Linked DNA regions of Homo sapiens: all the other regions are linked to region 1. The links come from fine-mapping of genetic effects on gene expression. A gene starts in region 1. Each other region holds a variant in brackets. All regions are shown on one strand. Distances are between the middles of the regions.

Evidence for each region. PIP is the estimated chance that this variant, and not a neighbour inherited with it, causes the effect. A credible set is the group of variants that fine-mapping cannot tell apart.
Region 2: its variant is the best candidate, but not a certain one, in a credible set for the expression of DNAJC1 in whole blood (TOPMed, PIP 0.53).
Region 3: its variant is the best candidate, but not a certain one, in a credible set for the expression of DNAJC1 in testis (GTEx, PIP 0.55).

The regions. Positions count from the first base shown.
Region 1 is chr10:22,000,371-22,008,558 of GRCh38, forward strand. DNAJC1 (DnaJ heat shock protein family (Hsp40) member C1) reads right to left here and starts at 3,360. Exons shown (of 12, transcript NM_022365.4): 1 at 2,843-3,360. The coding sequence starts at 3,064. RefSeq lists a silencer at 2,994-3,363 and enhancers at 3,024-3,524, 3,404-3,453, 3,484-3,613.
Region 2 is chr10:22,033,762-22,041,949 of GRCh38, forward strand. No RefSeq gene overlaps it. Among named protein-coding and RNA genes, the nearest start is that of DNAJC1, 34 kb to the left of the region's middle. The variant T/A (reference allele first, on the strand shown) is at 4,412.
Region 3 is chr10:21,904,221-21,912,408 of GRCh38, forward strand. DNAJC1 (DnaJ heat shock protein family (Hsp40) member C1) reads right to left here. Exons shown (of 12, transcript NM_022365.4): 7 at 302-392. Among named protein-coding and RNA genes, the nearest start is that of DNAJC1, 95 kb to the right of the region's middle. The variant C/G (reference allele first, on the strand shown) is at 3,585.

The DNA.
Region 1 (8,188 bases):
TACTTATAAGTAAAAGCCGAAGTCCTTACAATGGCCTACAAAGCCCTACATGGTCTTCCCTTACCACCTATGACTCAGATCTTGTCTCCTATTGCTGTTCTCCCATTACTGTTTTCCTTGATCACTCTGCTCCAGCCACACTGCCTGCCTTGCTATTCCTCAAACGCTAAGCAAGCTCTTGCCTCCTGGCCTTTGTGCTTACTGTCTGCTCTTCCTTGAATGTCCTTCTACCATGCTATGGTCTGAATGTTTTTGTCCTTCGAAATTCTTATGTTGAAATCTAATCCCCATTGTGACAGTAATACAAGGTGGGGCCTCTGTGAGGTGATTATATCACGAAGGTGGAGTCCTAATGGATGAGATTAGTGTCCTTATAAAAGAAGCCCCAGAGAGCTGCCCTGCCCGTACCACCATGTGAGGACACAGCAAGAAGGTGCCATCTATGACCAGAAGGCCCTCACCAGACACAGAATCTGCCGGTGCCTTAATCTTGGATTTCCCAGCCTCCAGAATTGTGAGAAATCAAGTTCTCCTGTTGAAAAGCTGTCCAGTTCATGGCATTTTGCTATGGCAGCCCAAATGGCCTACAACACAACAATTACCCACATGGCTTACTCCCTAACTTCTCTCAGAGGCCTGCTCTGACCATATAACATTTATATTTACTTACTTGGCTGTTTACTGTCTGTTTCTCCCTACTGAATTATAAGCTTAGGGGTTTTGTTTTATATAAAGGTCAACTCCCAATGCTTAAAATCCAATAGGCACCAAACAAATCTCTGTTGCGTGAACAAGAAGAGATTAGTGCACAGAGCCAGGTCACCACTTTCAGCAGCCTACCTACTTTGTTCTGGTCCCTCATGTTTGGCTAGTCACCAAATGGCTCTGGCTTGAAAACTACACATGAAAGACCCTGGACAGGTTGCATTTGTCTCCACCAAATTTCTGGTCCCTGAAAGTCATCTAACAAAGTTAAGATTCAATGTAAAGAAAAAAACTTGTTCCATTCAGTTTCTCTGCTTGGACAGAATAAAATTCCTCCTGGCATTCTTTCCAATTTTAATACAGCTGGATAGAGAAACACAGGTTAAAACAATTTTCTGGATCCTTCTTTTCGGATTCTACCTTGACAAAGAATCTTCTTGATTATCTATGCTTCTTTATTTTCTCATCTTTGCCCAGAGAGTCAAGTGCTCTGGTTGTTCACACTGCCTAATTAACTATGCAAATCAAGTTACATGAAATTATAAATGAAAATTCTATGAGTGTTCACATGCAAAGCTAGATTACATGATCTAAATTTTAAACTGCTACTAAATTTCTGTTCTCTTAAAGGCACTTAATTTTTCATGAATAACTGGATCTTCAAGATTTCTGGATAGATTATGTTTAAGACTCTCTTTACGTACAGAATGTAATCAATGATAAATTCTAATTATTCCCAGTATTAAAGTAGTTCTTAAAAGTCATCAGAGCTTCACTAATTATTTTTACACATACTCCATCATTTGCTTTGAAAATGAGATATATAGTGTATCTATAAGCAGGGAGGGGCACCAGGCAACAGATCATAAATATAGTTATTACAAAGTTGCTTGCACATATGAATCTGAAGTGTGAAATGCCTATACTTTATAACTCTTACAAAAATAAAAAATTGTTTCACTCATGGTACCCTGGCAACCCAGCAATTTTATATTCACTGATGGAATGAAAATGCAATGTCTGAAAATTAAAATTCAGTAAAAGTTCAATAGTTCACCCACATTTATGATAACCTATGGGGGAAGGGGATGTGCATTTCATATCTAGTCATGTGAAGTGTGCCTTGAATGGCAACTATCGTAAACATTAATTTTTTACTCCCATAACTATTCAAAGCATTGTACGAAGGGCTCAATCAGATCGTGTGAAGTGTACATTTTTCACCCCATAAGCCTGAAATCAGCGAAATGTTATCTTCTCCTTCGCACAAGGCTTCAGGTAGAGACTGGATATCTACCCTCACTCAACCACCCTCAATGGTAGAACTAAAAAGCAACAAATGGATTTTACAAGTTAATGTCTTAAGCTATAGAAGAAAACGAAATGAAACAAAAGGAAAAGGGGAAAAAAAAACCCATTCCTACATTACTGACCGGGGGCTTCTCTTCCAATCGCATCCCAAGTCCTTTGCTGCTCAAAAAACTTAACACCTCCAACCTGGTTAGACGCTTCAAATTCCTCCAGATTTCTAAACTGCGAAAGCGAAACAAACATCTACCTAACAGGCTAAAAAGATGACGAAGTACAAAGTAAGAAAAACTTTTGCAACACAGACACTGGCCACAGTGCATTCCTACTTTCCCAGAAGGGAAGAGGAGGGGAGGCAGCTGAAATAAGAATAAGGATGAGGTAAGTATCGGTGGAAGATGACAGTTTAGGGTGAGAAGCGGCTGCTCTTTCTCACATTCAGGGGGACAGGAAGGCAAAAGGTAGGTGTTAAATTAAAAAAAAAAAAAAGTCTACCCACACCACTCTTCGTTCTTCCTCCAGCACAGCTGGAGGGGGAAGGCTCTTCCCCAGAACGCCGGAGCAGAGAGAAGGCATCGCCACCCTAGGCTAGTGGCGCCGTCCAGCCTGTCACTGGGGCTGGGACTAGAAAAGTTGAAGCAGGAGTAAAGATCTGGGGAAGACGGACACGTCCTTCCAAGGCTGAGGACCCCGGTGACCCGAGCTGAGGGCAGCCAGAGCCCGGGGTGACCAAGCCCTGCCCTACGTGTCCGGCTGTCTCTGAGGAACCGGGTCGCCTGACGCCTGCCCTGGCCCCTCTCCGCCCGGCCCCGCGCGCCTCCTTGCTTACCTGCTGCACCCCGAGGAACTGGTAGAAGTTGAGCTGCACCTCCTCCACTAAGTCAAACAACTCCAGGTCTCCGCTCTCCCAGCCGCGCGCCGGCGCCACGGCGGCCAGCAGCAGCAGCAGCAGCCACAGCAGCGGCGTCCGCGGCGGCGGCGGCGGGAACGGCACCAGCCCGAGCTGGCGGCGTCCAGGAAGCTGCGCCGGCTGGGAGCAAGGAGCCGTCATCGCGCTGGGCTCGGAAAGGTCACCCGCCGCGCAGCTCCGTTGGCCGAGAGCTGGGACGTGGCGGGCGGCGCTGGCTGTGGGGAACAGCGCCTGTCAGTGAAAAGCGCGGGCAGGCGCACCGGAGCGGCCCGCCAGGTGGCTGGCCCCAGACAGAGCGCGGAGGCGGCGGGAGCCGGCTGCCGGACGGGCGGGTGGGTAGGCGGGCGGGGCCGCAGCCAGCGCTACGTTCCGAAGACCCTCGCCCCCAGGCCTACACACAGCTGTAGAGGCAGCGCCCGGCGCCTGGGCTGCACAGTGGGTGAGGCTTCCCTTCGCCTCAGCCTATCCCAGGCCTCGCTTCCGGTGACATCATGTCTCCTAGCAACCGCGGGAAGGGGGCGTGGCCGGAAGCCTGGACGCCTGGCGCCCCAGATCTGGGCCTGGGTGAAATGCCTCTCAATCACTGGCGCGCACGGAGCAGCTGTACCTGCGCCCACATGGGCTGAGAGACAGGGACGGTTATAGCCATCTCGCGTCCATCTGGAACGCCCCACGTGGACTTCCCCTGAAATAGCTACTGTCTTCCTCTCCCCTAGCTATCGAACACTAAAAGCATATTTGAAGCCTGATTAATTGATTATGGCTTCCATGCATTTAATTAGTCCATCAGCAAAGAAGACAGGACAAGTTGAACCAGGTTCTAAAAGGGGCAAATCTAGTAAGTAGAGAGAGGTAGAGCAGAAAAGGAATTGAAACCAAAACAAAAAGTATACTTCTAATTATGAATTAAGATTTACAGGCATAATACCATAAAATGACCTGGTAGAATTAACAGTTAATAATGGTGACTCAATCATAGTTGGAGGAGAAATGTAGTTTATCCACCTTAGCCCACCTCCAGTTGGGGTTCCTTTGAAAACAGACCTCAATTGAGATGTTTCTGTTTTAAAAGACAGGCTAAAAACCTCCTCTCCCATAACAATGTCTCACCTTCTAGTCTTGCATTGCTTCTGTTCAAGCTCTTTTCAAGTTATTTTCTCCACCACAATTCTCTTGTGTGGACTTTATTATTGTGTGCTTAGCACAATGCATAGCACATGAGAGCACTCAATTAGTTGAACTGAATCCTGTGACTACCTCCCTACCACCATTCCCCCTACCACAGATTTTTAGTTTATTTATTTATTTATTTAGAGACGGAGTTTTGCTCTTGTTGCACAGGCTGGAGTGCAATGACACCATCTCGGCTCACTGCAACCTCTGCCTCCCACGTTCAAGCAATTCTCCTGGCTCAGCCTCCCGAGTAGCTAGGATTACAGACTCCTGCCACCATGCCTGGCTAATTTTTTGTATTTTTAGTAGAGACGGGGTTTCACCGTGTAGGCCAGATTGGTCTCAAACTCCTGACCTCACATGATGTGATCTACCCACCTCAGCCTCCCAAACTGCTGGGATTACAGGCATGAGCCACCACCCCCAGCCTAGTTTATTTTTGGTTATATCAGTTTTCTTAAAGTGAACGTCATCTTTACCAAGTCCCTAAATTAGGTTACTGTTTATTCAATGAACAAAACATCGAAATAAGATGAAATTAATGATCTTAAGCACTACTTTTACATATTATAGTAACATTCATCTTTTCTCCTAATTTGATCATTAGATTAAGTGCAATAAAACCTTTGAAACTGGTGCCATATTGCCACAAATCTGGGATTCTTACCCCGATCTTGTAGCAGACAGCCTAGTATTTCCCTTTTGAGTTTTACCTTTATGTTGTCTGAGAACCTCGGGGACTTACTCCATCTAAAGATAGCCCATCCTCTTTCTAAGGCCATGCTGAAACAGAATTGGATTCTATTAATAATACTTCTCATGGACATAAGGTATTACTCAAAAATTCATGCTGCCCAGCTCCAATGACACTTGTCCACCCTGAGATGATCTTCTTGCTTGTCCAGGTTCCTGCAAAGACCACAGTGATATTCATATTTAGACTTCTAGCTTGGCCTCTTTACCTATTCAGTCATTGTCCCAAAAATTACAGTGCAATTGAATAAATCTTTTGCTGAGGTCTGAACTAAGGGAGTGACAGTATCCACTGTTTTCTTCCCTGGTGACATGTACTAATTCTGGGCATAGACTCATCCAGCTTGGCCTGGGCAGAGGGAGTTTACACAGAAAAAGAGAAACCAGTGAGATGTTTAACCATCATGTGAGCTGTGAAATGGATTGGAAATATAGAGGAGCCCCAAACATATAGCCAGTTTTCCCACAGGACATTCGCTGAGTTCTGGGGTGGTGCAGGAGGCTGAGCAGCTGGGCGTGATAGGCAGAGTAAAATTACCCCATATTCTACTGCATAGAAAGCTAATTCTGCTTAGAAGGATCCTGCCTCAAATACACAAGCATTCTCCCCCTTCAAGACATTTACACTATTTTTGAAGTTGTATGAGAAGGAGGCTGAAGATCTACGTTTAAAACCTCTCAAAGGCAGAACTGAATCTCAGAGCAGAGGAAACAGCAGCTGTCCAGGCTCTTGATCAAAAGCCCAGAGGAATCACACATGAAGAAGAGAGAGAAACCACAAGAGAACTATCTTACTGAAACCGCACCCCAATCCCAACCCAGCTCATCCTTGATTAGACAGAGATAATCAGAACATCATCCTATTTGTCTATGTTTATCCCTAGAAGAAAATAACATCATCTATATTGTCTATAGATCTTTAATATAAAAGTCTAACATTTGTAAAAAAAAATTATGAGGTGTGAGAAGAGCAGGAAAATTTGACCAACAATCAAGAAAAAAAAAATAATAGAAGATCCACAGATAAGCCAACTATTGAAGTTTAGATAAGAACTTTAAAATAACTATTATGAAATAAAGCCATAGGTTATAAAATAGAAGAAAACATGAACAAGATGGATTAAAATATGCAGAATTTTAAGAGTATTAAAATCCATAAAAAAGAATCAATGGAAAATATTTAACTGAAAAATGTAATTTCTGAAAGGAATATTGCAATGGATCAGTTTAATAGCAACCTGGACACAGCAGAACAGAGGGTTAGTGAATTTGGAGACTGAGCAAGAAAAAATACCTAAACTCAAGCACAGAGAGAAAAACAAATGGAAAAAATAGAACACAGCTTAATAGGCATGTGTACAATGAATAAACCCAGGATAGGTATAACTGGAGCCTTAGAAAAAGAGGAGACAGAGAATGAAGCAGAAGCAATATTTGAAGATATAATAGCCAAGAATTTTACAAAAGTAATGAAAGACATAAAACCACAGATGAAAAAAATATCTCAAAATGAATCCTAGACCTCAATGTATGAGTTAATGCTACCAAACTCTTGTAAGAAAAAAAGGGAGTAAATCTTAGTGACCTTGGGTTAGCCAGTGGTTTCTTATATATGACACAGAAACATAAATGACAGAAGAAAAAAAATAGATAAATTGGACTGCACAGAAATTAAACGTATGCTGCAAACAATATTATCAACAAAGTAAAAAGACAAGAGAATAGGAGACAATATTTGTAAACCACATACTTGATAGGGTACTTAGATCCAGAATTTGTCAAAGATTCTTACAACTCAACAACTAAAACAACCCCCCTTTTTTTGTTAATGGGCAAACAAGTTGAATAGACATTTCTTCAAAAATATGGAAATGACCAATAATCACATGAAAAGATGCTCAACATCTGTAGTCATCAGGGAAATGCAGATCAAGACTACAATGACATGCTACTTCTCACCAAGTAGGATGGCTATAATCAAAAAGATAGACAAGAAAAAGTGTTGAACATGTGGAGAAATTGGAACCCTCTCACATTACCGCTAGGAACTCAAAATGATGGAGCCCCTTAGGAAAACAATTTGGCAGTTCCTCCAAAAGCTAAATGTAGAGTTACTATATTACCCAACAATTCCACTTCTAGAGAAAAGAAACATATGGCCACACAAAAACTTGTACAAAAATGTTCATAGCAGCATTATTCACAATAATCAAAAAGTTTGTAAACAACCCAAATGCTCATCAACTGAAGAAGGAATAAACAAAGTGTGGTATATCTATGCAGTGGAATATTATTCTGCAATATAATGAAATGAAGTGTGGATATATGCTGTGACATCGATGAGTTTTGAAAACATGCCATGTGAAAGAAGCCAGTCACAAAAAAATCACCTATTGTATAATTCCAGTTATATGATATGTCCAGAATAGGCAAACTTACAAAGACAGAAAGTAGGTTAGTAGTTACTTAGGGATAGGGAGTAGATAAGGTTACAGATTAACTGCTAATGACTGTAAGATTTCTTTTAGGGGATGTGAAAATGTTCTAAAATTGGATTATGGCAATGATTGTATAACCCGGTTTAGTATATTAAATACTAAAAAAACACTGACTTAAATATACTTTAAATAGGTGAATTGTGTAGTACGTCAATTGTATCTCACTAAGGCTGTTAAAACAGAAAGAAAAAAACAACCACTCACAAATACAATACACTCAACAAACCCCAAAATGGATAAATGCAACAAAGCAAAGCAAATCTAAGTATATCATCGCCAAACTGCAGCAAAGCTTGTGGGATGTAGTGAAGGCAGTAACTTCAAAGAACATCTGTGGCACGGCACTGTGGCTCACGCCTGTAATCCTAGCACTTTGGGAGGCTGAGGTGGGCAGATCACTTGAGATCAGGAGTTTGAGACCAGCCTGGCCAGCATGGCAAAACCCCATCTTTACCAAAATTACCAAAAAAAATTAGCTGGGCATGATGGCGTGCGCCTGAAATCCTAGCTACTTTGGAGGCTGAGTCACGAGAATTGTTTGAACCTGGGAGATGGACATTGCAGTGAGGTGAGATTGCACCACTGCACTCCAGCCTGGGCCACAGAGCGAGACTCTGTCTTGGGAAAAAAAAAAAAAAGAACATTTGTAGCCTTAAATGTCTTAAGGAAAGAAGGCAGAAAATTAATGAGCTATGTGTTCAACATAAGGAGTTACACAAATAACTACAGGATAAATTCAAGTGAAGATTCCAATGAAGACATCTAGTTGTTTTTATCATGGTGCTTATGCAGGTGAGCTGGGAGCATATCAGCTCATGCATAATTTTTTTTATGTCATCAT
Region 2 (8,188 bases), 33 kb after region 1:
TGTGAGACTCAAAGCACATATAAGTAAGCGTTTTATATGTCTTGACTGAGTGAGCTGGGCACTGGCAGCCCTGGGAAGCCAAGCTTTGTGTTCAAACCTTGCCTCACTTTGAATCCTGAAAGAAGGCTGTAGTGTTCCAAGCAACACAAATAACTGACTAACTCTATGATATCCTACCTTACTTGTGTTACTTCTCCATGTGAGTCAACTACTTTTGCTGAAAAGGATGATGTACAAGAAAGGGAAAGATAGCTCCTTTTCCTTTCAGTTCTTCTTAACGTCAGTAAGTCAAAAGTAGAAAGTGTTGGTAGAACATGCAGGCATTAAGAAGTGAAATAACAACAGTTGAGTCAATTTTGTATGGTGTTGTTCTGTTAAGAACAAAATACATAGGCGTGTGAGAACTACAAAATACAAATTGTGTAAGTTCAGCAATTCTGCATACGAATTAAATGCTCTTATATTTATATTGAAACCGGCTATGCACAATATAAAGATGAATGCTAAACCATGATAATAATTTACAATTTTAATTTTTCTTTACTTAAAGTGATGTTTTCTTTACTTAAAGTGACAAAATAAAAAGCACCATGGCCTGTTGAGAGAGCGAGACTGCAGAAGAAAGGAAAAGCTTTATAGTATTTTACCATCTTTTATGGTACGTTTCTCTCTTGCTTTTTGAACAAGTCCTGCATTTTCATTTTGCACTGGGCTTTGCCAATTATGCATCCAGCTCAGTATTCATTTTAGTTAAACCCTGCATAAATTTCAGTCTGTTCTTAGCCACGCTGTCCCATGCCAAAGGGCATTTCACAGCCATGGTGTTATTCTTTCTCAAGCCTCTCTGCTTTTATGGTCATTTTCTCACCTATTGGAAATCCCTGGATGTATCAAAGGGGATCTATTGCCTTGAATTGAGAGCTGCTCTAAGAACAGTCTGGCTACACCCAAGCTCTGTATTGTGTAGTGTTCAGTAATTCATTACTCTTGCTTTGCTTTTCTGATTTGCCAAGAGTTTAATTGTTCATTTTGTGGTTCCAACGGTTGTTTCATTGCCTTGCTTTTCTATATAATTATTATAAAGACACCACTTTAAAATATCAAACCTCTCTAAATGACATCCCATCCATCTCCGAGTTTGAGCCATAAGCCTAATCATCTCAGGGAAAGAGACCACAGGTAGAGAACAAATAGGGCATTTCCCAGCTTCATGTCCTAAGGATGACTTCTTTTTTGAATTGAAAGAGAGAGACAGACAGACAGACAGAGAGATTTGAGTGCCAGGATTTCTTAAGAGATCAGGGATTTTCAAATGCATGCATTATCTATTAATATATAATAGGACCAGTTATTACAAATTACCTAGTGAAGAAAGTTTTGTACTGATAGAAAGCGAGTAAAGGAAGCCTGCCCTATCTGGCTATGGTAGGTGATGATCTATTGCAGTTGGTGGAGTGGAACAGAAAAAAAAACCAAACAACTTTAGTTTTGGGGTAGGGACAGAAATATATCTTGGGTTTGGCCCGTTAGAGGTTTCTTCCAGATGCGAGAGGGATAGGAGGACTCGTGTAGACACCCGGATTTACAGCTCCTGCCTAAGACTACAGTTGAACTGGAACAATAGAAAATGTCCCTCACTACAAGGCTAGTACATGCTGACCAACAGCCAACTTCTGAGGGAAGTTCATGAGAATGGAAAGAGATCTTCCCTGATACACAGGCACAAAGAGAAAATCTGAAGCTGAGGCTGCAGCTGTCATTACTAACAAACAAAAACCCTCTGGTAAATCAGCCCCCAAACCCACACCCTAAACCCAAGTTAATTCCGGAGGGATTTAAAATTGAGAGTGGCACATTGAAAATAACTGTAGTAATGACAAAACTTAAACTTAGGCTATCTCACGACTAGATTGACTCAGCTCCCCAAACCAATTGCCTAGTAAAGATGAGGTATGCCTATTTCCAGGCATAAATAGTGTTTACCTCAGTCTCTACTGCCCTGCACATGATGTCTTTTTCAGTAGAAGAATAAGAAACACTACCCTGTGAAGAAACAAAACAGTCAACAAAACTAGGCTCAGATATGTCACAGATGTTGGAATTATCAGTCAGGGAATTAAAGATAGTGATGACTGGCCAGGCACAGTGGCTCATTCCTGTAATCCCAGCACTTTGGAAAGCTGAGGTGGGAGGATCACTTTAGGCCAGAAATTTGAAGCCAGCCTGGTCAACATGGCAAGATCCTGTCTCTACAAGAAAAAAAAAATTAAAAATTAGCCAGGTGTTCACCATCATCCTGAAGCAGCTGGATTGATAGAGTGGTGGACCAGGCATGGTGGTTTGTGCCTGTAGTCATGGCTACCTGGGAGGCTGAGGTGGAAGGATTGATGGAACCCAAAAGTTTGAGGCTGCAATGAGTTATGATTGTGCCACTCCACCTCAGCCTCGATGACAGATAGTCATTTCAGTAAAGACATAAAAATTATAAAAACAAATGAAATGGAAATGATTGGTAGCATGTTAACAGAGATGAAGAATACCTTTGAGAGGTTTATCAGCAGACTCAGTTAAATAATCACTAAATGTGAAGATGATTTAATAAAAATTTCCCAAAATAAAACACAAAGAAGGGAGCAAAAAAGAAAATGTAGAGCATGCAAGCATTGTGGGGGAAAAAATCAAACATCTATTTGGAACCCCAGAAGAAGAAGAGTGAGTGAACAGGGCAGAATAAGTATATGGAAATGATGGCTGAGAATTTTCCAAAATTAATGAGATACCAAATCAACACTCTAGGAGTCTCAATGAACACAAGTCAGTATATATAAGAAAACAAAATGAAACAGGAATCACAGATACATAAGCGTCATGTTCAATTGCCAGAAACCAACAAAAAAGAGAAAAACTTTGAAGACAGCTGGAGGAAAAATAATACACATTATGTACAGAACAAAGGTAAAAATTATAGCAGACTTCTAGTCAGAAACTATGCAGACCAATTGACAATAAAGTGACATTGCTAAAGCACTAAAAGAAAAAAGAAAACTATCAACCCAGATCTTCCTTCACTGATTCAATAAATGAGTCAATAATACTAATGTGATAACAAGGTAAGTCAAGTAATATGTTTCAACAGTCATGTATTCTAGAGTAATTACTTTCTTTTTTTAAACTTAATGCTAAATATTCTTTCTTGAGTACTATTATGAATTCGTGAATTTTTCTATAAAACCTATTTCACATATATATCATTTTCTTTGATGTTCTAATTGTTTTATCCTAGCCAATGTTTAATTGTTTTAGCTGTTTATTGAGTCCTTTGGACCCAGCTTTATAATATGAAAATTTTCTTTCTTTCTGACCTGATAAGGTATCCCAGACTTATATTATACCTTCTGTGCATCAGACACAGAATCAGTCATTTTTCCCAAGGATTCTGGGTACATGTAATGGAAAATGGTATTAAGGACCAAATTCCAGACCCTAGAGGAAGAGATCCAGTTTGTATTGAAGGTGTTAGATTACTCCCAGGCCATTTCAGTGGGCAGAGCTAGAATATATCTATATCTTCACCTATTTTTAACTTTTTATACTTTTTTTCTAAATTAACCAAGTGTTAACATTTGGCCACATTTATCACTCTATTTTATGTGTACATACATTAATTAATATTAATAGTGTCAATATTATTAAGCTGAACTTAATGAGATATTAAGTTACAGAGACCATAAACATTAATCCCTAAATACTTCAGTATATACTTCTTCAGAATAAGAACATTCTTTTACATTATTAGACTATAATAAAATCCAGGAAACTTAACATTGACATACTACTTTTATCTATGGTAACTTCCATGTTTAAGTTTTTCAAAATGTCTTAACAATATCCTTCATAGCAATTTTTTTCATAATTCAAGAGCCAGATCAGGATTATGCATTGTATTTAGTAATCATGTACTTTGATCTCCTTTAATCTGGAACAATTCCTGAACCTTTCTTTGTTTTCTTGTCATTGGCAGTTTTGAAGAATGAAAGCCAGTTATTTTGTAGCTTGTTTTTACATTTGGGTCTGCTTGATTGTTTTCTCATGTTTAAATGGAAGATTATACATTTTGATAGGAATTTTACATTAATGATGACATAATTTTTGGTGCATCACAAATAAACCTGGTTCCCATTATTGGTGATGTTAAGGTGAATCAAATTCAGTTAAGGTGGAGACTACCAGATTTCTTCCCTGTGGTTCCTGTGTTCTTCTCTGTAGTTAATAATCTCTAAGGAGATACTTTGAGATTATGTAAAAATCCTGCTCCCCTTAAACTACCAACCAATAGCTTTAGCATCCATTGATGGACTTTTTTTCACAAATAATTACCATGATGGTTGCAAAATGGTAGGTTTTCTAACTC[T/A]GTGATTCCTTCTGCATTTATTAATTGACATTCCATTGAAAAGAGATTTTCATTCCTGCTTCCCCCACCCCTTGCTTTTCCTCCTTGCTTTTCTTTAGTATGAATTTAAGAAAGTGATACATTCCCTCAAGAGGGTTTAGCCCAAGTTCATCTCTCTTGGACCATGGAATACCTCACCAGTCACTGAAAGCCTCATGTCTTTTGACTGTCGGAGATTCTACATGAATAATCCTTGGACATGAAGCTATGTGTATCAAATCTATGCTTCTCTTCTGGGGCATTAGGGAGTGGCGAGTTATGTAATTCTAATGTTAAATATTCAAGACATACACTAATAAAACCAGCACAATAGTAAGAGGGCTATGTATATTTGGAAATATTCTTGTTTTATAAATAATTGGCATGGTAAACAATTATGTTGCTCACTGCAAGGCTGTTTCCATGCCAATGAACAAGTATTTTATTCTCTTTTCATTTTCTTCTTGACGATTTTAAAAAGTACTCTGCCTTGAATTTGGTTGTTGCTGTTAACTCTTCCGTAGACATTAGTTTGCAATACACACCTAAAATATGAGTTTAAGAAAGTCTGAATATATTTTAAGCATGCAGTGGATGTTGTGGTCAATAGTCAGGCACCCCTACCATCCCCACCACTCCCCAGCTCTCAGTGGCATCCTCTCTGGGAATTGCCCTCAGCTGAGCCGTCTACCTTCCTTCCTGGAACAGCCTATAGAGGAGGAGGACTTGACAAGGTGGAACCATACTGACTAACTCAAGTCAGGAGAACTCTAAAGGGCCCTCCCAGCTCCAGAGCTGCCTGTGGGGTTGTACCACATCTCTGCTTCTCCCACAGCCCAATCCTATTTCCTTCACTTTTCCCACAGGTGTTGGGGCCCAGGGCCCTCCTCAACAAATGACTGTACGTAAATCTCCATTTCAGTCTGTTTCCCAGGGAAACTGACCTTAGTTAGCTTTTGAAGAACCAGATCTGAAAAACAGTCCTATTAATATTTTAGTATGTTTTTGTATGTCGCTCAGAAGCCTATTTTATTTACCTGATTACAGGAAGAGATAACTGGGGTTTGAATTTTTGTTTGTTTGTTTTACATCACAATAGAAGAGTATTTTCGGAAAATGTGAAAATAAATACAACTCCAAACTCAGTTTTAAAAAGGGTTGCCAGTGTAATATTATATTTAGAAACTAAAAGGTGTTCTCTATGTATTCTTTTTTTAAACTTCTAAAAACAGAGCAATAAACATTAGAAAAATAATTTGTGAAAGAAAGAGACAGAACTGAAAGTAAAGTTGTAGAATTGGTGGCAATCAGCTAAACGTTATCACTATTCAGGTTCAAGTACGAAAAATACTTTAAATAAAATATATATGTTTAGTTTTTTTAATTCTAGGATTCACACTGCTCTACAATTTAACCACCAGGTAGGAAAGTAACTAATGAAATACTGACTATTAAGAAGGATGTCCTACTTTATACAAATACATTTAATTTCCCAACTATATCATGAGGTAAACATTATTATTCCGATTTTATGGAAAAGAACACGGAGGTTCAGAGACATTAAGTAATTTTTTCAGGTCACCAAAAGAGTAAGTGGTGGGAATCCCAATTCAACTCAGATCTGCCTGATTTTAGAATTCACGTTCATGATCTAACTCCACAGGGTGTGGTTTCTGGCTTCTAAACTTAAGAATGGGCTGGACCAGACGACACAGTCTGGTTCTGGGATGACAATGGGTGAGAATTTTGACTTTGATTAGTCTGGAGCAGCTTTTATTTAGGTTTGCCCCAGTGGCAAGGTGCAGAAGATGTTGAGATAAGTGTTCAGGCGAGCGGATGTAGCAGCTGGCGCCTTCCTTATTTTTTGTGGAGACGTGCTAGAGGCTCCAAGGGCTGGGCAAGCTCTGAAGGAGATATTTGCCTGGTTGGAGGTGCATCAAACTGTGTGCTTGCTGCCTTTATACCACCAGTCATGTTGGCATTCAGCAAGCATAGACAACTTGTTCTACTAATTATGGCAGTAATTCCACCACTGACGAGACCATGTTGATGTTCTGAACCTCAGAATTCTCTGCCAACACTGGGCATTATACCCTCATCTCTCTCAAGGTCTCAGAGGGAAGGAAGTTTCTACATGTGTCCACTTGGACTAGCCTGTCCATAGCCTCCCTTAAGAAGGCAGGACTCAGACTGGACATGGTGGCTCACACCTGTAATCTCAGGACTTTGGGAGGTTGAGGTGGGAGGATTGCTTGAAGCCAGAAGTTTGAGACCAGCTTGGGCGACACAGTGAGACCCTGTCTTACCAGCCCCCGTACCCCTCCCCAATAAACAAATAAATAAAATAAATAAATAAGAAGGCAGGACTCCTAGCCATTTGGCTAAACTGTCACCTCTGTAACTACAGTTCAAAGACTTCATATGCCAAATGGAGTATCTGTATAAATAAGTGATTTAAGTTACTTAGAACAATAATTTTTTGTCAAATTTTATTATGTGAGGATAATTAAAATACATTAATTAAAATTAAAACACATTAATTAAAATATATTAATCAGTCACAATGGCCCAGTGCTAAGAAGATAAATTCACATAAATTTTAAAGTTTTAAAATGTGGGTGTAATAACATATCATCATATGATTTAATGTGCAAGGGAAAAATTGTGAATATATTTAGATTATTCCTTGGTCTAGAACTTCGTCAAAATAAAGTGGAGATCTGAGGCAAGTGAGGACACAAAGAAAGTGAAGATGCCTTAGTACTGTGTTTCATACATAGTTGTAACCTACCTTTAGAGATAGTAAAGCAAAAAATTAGAATGATTTAGATTGTTTAGCTGGGAGAAAATAAAACAGATGGTATTCTGTTCTTAATTTGCAATGTTAAGAAAGGTAGAAGAGCATACATCTTTTTTTTTTTTTTTTTGAGACGGAGTCTCATTCTGTCACCCAGTCTACCAGGCTAGAGTGCAGTGCCGCGATCTCGGCTCACTGCAACTCCTCCCTCCCGGGTTCAAGTGGTTCTTCTGCCTTAGCCTTGGGAGTAGCTGGGACTACAGGCAAGTGCCACCATGCAGGGTTTCACTATGTTAGCCAGGATGGTCTCAATCTCCTGATCTCGTGATCCGCCCACCTTGGCCTCCCAAAGTGCTGGGATTACAGGCATGAGCCGTCGTGCCCAGCCAAGCATACATCTTTTAAATCCACAATCTTTCTTTCCATTCCTCAGCAGAAATTATGCTTAGAACATAGGAAAAGGGACTCAACTGGTAAATAAATGATCAGGCATGATTATTTTTATTCTTAAAATTCTTTCCTTGTTATAAAAGTAACGCACAGCATGTAGAAAGTTAGGAAAATATTGACCAACATGAAAAGAGAATAAAGGTTGCTCAGATGCTACTCAACAAAAGATAATTAACATTTTGGTGTATTTCTTTTTTTTCCTATCTTTTCAATTTTGATTAGGTAATACATTCACATGGTTCAAAAATTCGAAGTTACAAAAAACATACCCAGTCACCTAGGCATGGAGTTCTGCCACCTGGAAACAAGCAATGTATATTTCTCATGTATTTTTCCAAATCATTCCAGAGCTAATGTGTGTATGTAAAAACAGATACATGTAGTTTTCCCTTTTTCTTTTTTTCAGAAACTATAGCATACTATACACACTGTTGTGCAACTTATTATTTTTTACTTAACCATAAATCTTGGAGATTTTTCATATCAATCTACAAAGGACTTTCTCTCTCTCT
Region 3 (8,188 bases), 96 kb before region 1:
TAATTATAGTACTGAAGTATTTTAGGGCTTTGCAGACTTTGGATGCCCCTAGATTTGAGGAGTTACATGACTCAAGCTGATTTTATCCTTCCTTCTGATATCAAACTTTGGGTGGTAAAGTAATGCTATAATGTAGGATGTTCCATGTCAAATACATTAAGTACAAGTGACTCCACTAGGGAGTGGGAAAAAAAAAAAAAGAAAACCAGAAAATTTAATTACTGCTGAATTTAAAAGATAATTCACATTTAAATAATTAATTTTATATGACATTGTTAAAACACTAATGTTTAAAACTCACTTTGAAGTGTTTCAAGTTCAGTTCTAGTCAGTGCATCTTCCTTTTCCTTCAATCTTGTTTCTTTATATTTAGCATAAAACTGCCCAGCATCCTTAAGAAAAAAAGTTATACATAAATTAACATAAAAATCAGTGTGCTTCAATAATATTTTCCATGTAACTTAACTTTAAAGCATTATATTCATTTTATAAGTAGGCTTTCTTTTTGTTTTCAAATTTTATGATGAGCAGAAATTAAACATTTCTCTATGATTTTTCTCTCCTGGAGAGCCAGTTACAATGAGAAATTTTATGAGTATAATTTTAAACTATTTTTTCTCTCAGATATGGAAAGGAGGTATCCTCTTCCTGTTTTCTTCCATTGTATGCTATTTTCATAATATACTGTTGCATATACAGAGAGCAGAAAAACTCATTTGCTGAACTGATTTGGCACAGTAAATTATATTACTGTGACTAACAAAGTACTACTGCTATTTTCATATTAGCCCTTTAACTACAATAGATATTCAAAATTATCTTCAAATCTGATTATAAAACTTATACGAGCATGTATATAAAAGTGAAAGGTGCCACTCCTCCTTTTACCACCCTTAGAGACGAGTATAAAAACCATTACCATGAAGTCTTGAGGATTGAGGACTGAGGACACATACTGCATACATATACTTAGGTGTCAAGATACAGTGACTGAAGTCTCAATGAGTGGCACACAGGTAAGGCTTTAGTGGTGTACCAAAAAAAAAAAAAACCTAGGTCTTAAATAATGACATACATAAAAATAAACAAGCTGATGCTCTAGGCATATGAGATCCCGACAATGAAAATAAGCAAAACAGATCTTTTACCACACTCCTTGGCTCAAACCTCAGATAGTCTATAGGAATACCACTTGTATTAACAGCTGCCAGCCCACACTGTGCTTCCATGTCTGTGCAATTGCTTTGCCCTCTGGCTACAATATTGTACTTCCCTGGCATTATTCTGATGAACTCTTATTAATCCCTGAAAACCCATTCAAGCCCCATCTCCTTTGCAAGTTTTTCTGACCTTCTCTGGCAGTGTAATTCTCCCTTGTACACTACTTCTATATTTAAACATGTCTATAACTGCTTGTATCATGTTATATTCTCTTCCAGATGAGAAATTGAGAAAGGGATACTTACATGCCCAGAGCACAGTATCTGCCATAAAGCAGGTACTCAATAAGTATTTACCGAATTGAACTAGACTGAAATATGTGAGAAACCTAATAAAGCAAGAAATGAAGGGGCCTGATGACTAACTAAGGTGAAATAAGAAAAAGAAGGGTTTCAAGAATAACTCTAGGGTAACATTCTCAGACCATAAGATTCCTAGAGCAGATAAATCATAGACCCATCTGAGAGAGCTTTATTTCTGCAAGAAATAAAGGAACAAAATCTTTGACACTACTTTGACTCAGATGTAAATACATAAATACTTAAACCCTAGAAACTCTTTTCGTCTACGACTGTGTCCAAATTAAAGCTTTTTCCTGGGGGTCTGTGTCTCTTGGGGTTCTATCAGAACTCTTCCACCTAATAAGAATTTGGTATTCCTAAAATCATTGAATCAATACAATACAGATGTATTGTTAATATAGTAAAAGATCTCTTAATTCTTTTCATCCCCACTTTTATGTTCCTACCTCATTTCTATGAGGATTCACACAAGCCCTAGGCCAGGTAAACAATGGTACTACTAGAAGAGCACAGATGGCCATGCAACCAACTTACTCATCCTCCCATGCCCATATATAGTTTAAGTTTCAACAGGGTTTTGGGTTAAGGTTTTATAGCCCTTAACATTCCCCACCCCCCTTAAAAAAAGTCAACCCTAAAGAAGTATTATTTTATATTAAGCCATATGAGTCATTTATACCTTGGTGTGAATGAATGAATGAGCTTATTAGCTTCTTTCCACAGAGTAGGTTTTAATAGTAGGGAAGAAGAAAAGGTCAGGAAGGCATTGGCTCCTTGAGGGGAGTAGGAAATGTGGCACATGCAAGAAAAGAAGGGCACAGATTAGTTATTTATGAGAGGTAAAAGAAAGTAGGCTGAAATCAATCATCACAGTATAGCACAGTGAAATATGGTGATTAAGAGGACAGATTTGGAGCCAGACTATCTGAATTAAGAACTCAGCTCTGCCATCTTACTAGCTATGTGACATTCAGAAAATTATTTTACTTCTCTGTGGGTCCATTTTCTCATTCATAAAATGGGGATAACAAAAGTACCTAACTTATAGGACTGTTATGAAGATTAAATGTGTTAATACCTGGGAAACAGTTAGAATGATATCTTCTACACAGTTAGGCCTTATATGTATGTTAGCTATTTTTATTATTACTTCTACCAATTTGACAAGGATCTTGTTTTCCAACACAAAGGATGAGTTTTGTGCTTCATACTTCACCAAAATTCCCCTGCCAAATCCTGTATCTTCTTGCTTATGTGACCTTTTTAATTGCATCCTTCTCACTTCATTTTGCTGTATAATAGCAACCTCTCCCTAGTAGTCCTGCCAAATTTGAACATTTTCCCTGTTAATGTTTCTTCTTCCTGCTATGGGACATAATCCCACTAAAACTTCCTCTTTGAAATACACATTTAATCCAAATCCTCACTTATCTGAGGACTGCAATCCACCCAATCACCCTAACCTACTCTACTTAATCTGAGACTTTCATTACATTCCCTAGTTTCAGTCACTATTTTTATCTTCCTTTTGCTCCATTTCTAAGCATTTATTTAAACATTCCTCATGTTTTTTTTTTTTCATATCTTACCTATGCTTTGAAATCAAATTACAATATGCCCACTCCAGGAAACATTACTTCCTTAACAATCTATGAACTCAAGCAATTCTACTTTACTAAACAACTCTACATTGTTTCAACCATCCCTGTGTATAGTTTGGGGTATCACACTTTAAGATGCACTGACAAATAGAAAGACTTTAAAAGGAAAGTGATTAAATAGGGAGGCAGCTTGAAACTCTATTTTTATAAGGGATTAGAGATAAGAAGACTGGGGATAACTTCATAACTACCATACAATATCTCAAGGTTTATTACAGGCAAGAATGTTGTAAACTACTGCATATGATTCCAGAGATGAAAGTTTTGACTTTGGATCAATATGAGGAAGAAGCCAGGTGTGGTGGCTCACACCTGCAATCCTAGCACTTCGGGAAGCCCAGGTGGGCGGATCACTTGAGGGCAGGAGTTCAAGACTAGCCTGGCCAACATGGTGAAGCCC[C/G]ATGTGTACTAAAAATACAAAAAATTAGCCAGGTGTGGTGGCAGGCACCTGTAATCCCCGCTACTCAGGAGGCTGAGGCAAGAGAATTGCTTGAACCTGGGAGGTGGAGGTTGCAGTGAGCCAAGATCACACCACTGAACTCCAGCATGGGCCACAGAGTGAGACTCTGTCTGAAATATATGAAATATATATGAAATATATTATATATAATAATATATATAAATATATAATATAATATAATATATAAATATATATAATATAATATACATAAATATATATTATATATAAAATATATATAATATATAAAATATATATATAATATATAATATATAAAAATATATAATATATAATATATAAAAATATATAATATATAATATATAAAAATATATATTATATATATAAAATATATATTATATATAATATATATAAAATATATATAATATAGAGAAAATATATATATATATTTTATATATATATATATATAAGAATTTCCTAATAATTAAAATTACCTGAAAATGAAATCGGCTGATTTTGGAGATAGTATTCAAGAAGAAACCACGTGGCTATTCTTTAAGGTATGTTCTAAGGTATGGCTATTCTGTAAGGTATGCTTTTGAATCCAAGCATTCAAAAGAGGATGAATAAGATAAATTGTTTTCAACCTTTTTTCCCTCCCATTTTTCATGGGGGGGGGGTGAATTCAAGTGAATAAAATTATAATAAAATCGTTTAATGGGAAAAATAAGCACAAAAACTTATTTGGGTCCAGAGTAAACTCCAGTTTACCTACACAGAAAGTTAGATTTCCTGGGGATATAAACTTCTAATCCATCCTTATAGCCCTAGTACACTGCCTGGCACTTACAGAAGCTTAATAAATATTTAATGAATAATTAAATGCTTACTTCAATTGATTAGGGCTCTGAACTGCCTGCCTCATAATACTGTATTAAAATTATGGAGTTTACATTTTTCCAAACAGAAAGAACTCCTATTCTCAAGGAGTTTATAATCCTTATGAATGGAACCATGAGCAAAAGTTTTTATTCTAGAAGCAACTGTATTAGTACTTAAAATTTCTTTCTTTTTTTTTTTCCCCAAGACAGAGTCTCGCTGTGTCGCCCAGGCTGGAGTGCAGTGACATGATCTCAGCTCACTGCAACCTCCGCCTCCCGGGTTTAAGCAATTATCCCTGCCTCAGCCTCCCAAGTAGCTGGGATAACAGGTGCCCACCACCACGTCTGGCTAATTTTTGTATTTTTTAGTAGAGACGGGGTTTTGCCATGTTGGCCAGGCTGGTCTTGAACTCCTGGCCTCAGGTGATCTGCCTGCTTCGGCCTCCCAAAGTGCTGGGATTACAGGCGTAAGCCACCGCCCCTGGCCAATATTTAAGATTTCCTGAAGAGCTCAAAACCTGCCTTCATAGACATCAAACAGGGGACAGGTTTTACATTTAAACTATGGCTAACTTAAATAATGTATGAGTGTTCTTTGTACGTAATTATAGAGCATAGGCTCCTGCACAAGAAGACATTAAACAGGGATATTTATGCTTATTTATTGAACCATTATTATATGTATTGTACATTATTAGGATATGTGGTGATTATATAAGATACAACAGTTTCCCTTAAGGAATATGTAAAAATAACTATAAATATTAACTAAAATATGGAATATAGAATATAAGCTCTGTGAGAACAGGAATTGTTGTCTTTCACCCCCTACCCCTGCCCCGGCACAAAGTAAATAATGCAATCAATAAATAAAGTTTGTTGAATGAATTACTGGCAAAGAAAGTGGTGCTCACTCAACATTCTGTTTCCCTATATTCCGCTGTCCTCTTAAGATTAGGTGGGGTCAGAAGACTAGTTCTGGATGGGCTGTGGATGGAAATATCATGTGTCATTTCCAAACCAACTCACAGAAAAACTCATGCAAATCCTCCAGCTCTCTCCTCTTGTCATAATGAGCAAGGAGGCCACATGTTCCAGATGGATACAGCTAAGAAGGTGGTGAACACATCATTGCTCTGAGCTCCTGAATGGTTAGGTAGACCAGAATGCCCACTTTCCTATCAACCAGTGACAGACATGAGGCATATGCCAGAAACAGACTAAGGTCTATCAGTCTACCGTGATTAATACAAATAGTAAATGCTGTAAAGTTAGTATGGAGAACATACAATGAGAATTTTTCAGTTGGCCTGATGAAGGAAGGCTTCATAATGATGATAATTTAGTTAAGCCTGAAGATACAATATTTCCAAGATTAGTAAGCTGTGAGATAGGGAATATCCTTACATTAAACCTTTTTTTTTTTTCTTTTTCAGATGGAGTCTTGCTCTGTCACCCAGGCTGGAGTGGAGAGGCAAGATCTCGGCTCACTGCAACCTCCACCTTCTGGGTTCAAGCGATTCTCCTGCCTCAGTCTCCCAAATAGCTGGGACTACAGGTGCCTGCCACCACACTCGGCTAATATTTATATTTTTAGTAAGACGGCGTTTCACAATGTTGTCCAGGCTGGTCTCGAACTCTTGATCTCTGGTGATCCGCCCACCTTGGCCTCCCAAAGTGCTGGTGTGAGCCACCGCACCCGGACACCCTTTAACATTCTTGACATAGTTCATTAAGTGATAAGAGAACATGCTAAGGTGGCACTGTTTATAATGTTTTGGTTCACTTTTATCTCTCCATATAAACATCAACATATTAAGCAATCCAAAGAAAAGCTTAAGAAACAAGGGCATTAAACTAACAGAAAACCAAACACTGCATGTTCTCACTCATAAGTGGGAGCTGAAAAATGAGAATACGTGGACACAAGAAGGGGAATAACACACATCAGGGCCTGTGGTGGGGTGGGAAGAGGGTGAGCTTCAGGATAAATAGCTAATAATGCATATGGGGCTTAATACCTAGGTGATGGGTATTAAGCAAACCACCATGGCACACGTTTCCCTATGTAACAAACCTGTAAATTCTGCACATGTAGCCCAGAACAAGAAAAGAAAGGAAAGAAAGGAAGGAGAGGAGAGGAGAGGAGAGGAGAGGAGAGGAGAGGAGAGGAGAGGAGAGGAGGAAGGAAAGGAAGGAAAGAAAAGGAAGAAAGAAAGAGAGAGATGGAGAGAGAGAAAGAGACAAAGAAGAGAGAGAGAAAGAAAGAGGGGGGGAAGAGAGAAAGAGGGAGAGAGGGAGAAAGAAAGAGAAAGAGAAAAAGAGAAAGAAAGAGAGAGAAAGGAAGGAAGGAAGGAAGGAAGGAAGGAAGGAAGGAAGGAAGGAAGGCGGGAAGGCGGGAAGGCGGGCAGGCGGGGCAGGCATTGATTTACAGTGGTAGGGGGAGGGAAATACCACCTGTCCTGATGGGAATAAGGAACGTGGAAGAGCTATGAGGAAGGATACCTAGAAACAATATAGAGGATGTTCTATTTCTTTTTCATTGTTTGATAGCCCAAATCTTCTCTTTCGTTTGAGGCTTAGAAATAACCTTCAATGTAGGAAAATACCATAAGTACATTTCTGAAAATCTGCCCACAAAATCAAATGCTCTATATTGTTTTGTTCTCCCATTGACTTATACTATAATCTCAGAATTACATATAATATGCAATAAAATTACAATGAAAAATATAGAAAAACTGTAAAATTGTACATTTTGATAAGAGTCAAAATTTCTGTACAGAACTATAATAAGACTAAATCCACAAAAAGTAATAAAAATAAAACAGAAAACCAGAAGCTACTGTCTTCCTCTGGTCTGAGACTGTAATATTCAAGGAGATGCACAGCCTAAAAACTATTTTTTCCATTTGTTCCAAGAGATAGAAGAGACTGTAGAAGCCATTTATTCAGCCCTAACTCAATGTAAGAATCCTACAACTTATGTCCTACAGATGTCCCCAACTTAATGATGGTTTAACAGAACAACTTTTCCATTTTATGATGGTGAGATAGTGATATGCATTCAGTAGAAACCATACTTCCAGGGTCTATATAATCATTCTGTTTGTTTTTTCTTTCAGTACAGTATTCAGTAAATTACATGGGATATTCAGCGCTTTTTAAAAATAAAATAGGCTTTGTATTAGATTATTTTACCCAACTGTGGGCTAAACGTAAGTGTTCTGAGCGTGTTTAAGGTAGGCTAGGCTAAGCTATGAGTTTCCGGAGGTTAGGTATATTTAATGTATTTGCAACTTAGGGTATTTTCTCCTTATGATGGGCTTATCAGGATGCAATCGATAAGTTGAGGAAAATGTGTAATTATAATCAGCCTGAACATTCTGACAGGGAGTTTAAGATTACACAGCTTATACTATAAAGTTCTAGTTATCGACCTGGGGCGAAATTTATTCTTTTTTAGTTTTTATTTTTCTTATGTATTTTTTTCTTATATTTTAATATTTATTTTCATCTGCTTTCAGTTTCATTTCTACCATTAACTAGTTGTGTCACTTTGGGGAAATTGTTTCACCAATTTGAGTCTTAAGTATTTTCATCTATAAAATATGGAATTGATGAGACTATATGTTGCTAACATCCTACCTAACATTTTGTGGCTTTTTATCTTTTCTACATCTAGCAATAACTTACAAAACTCTATAG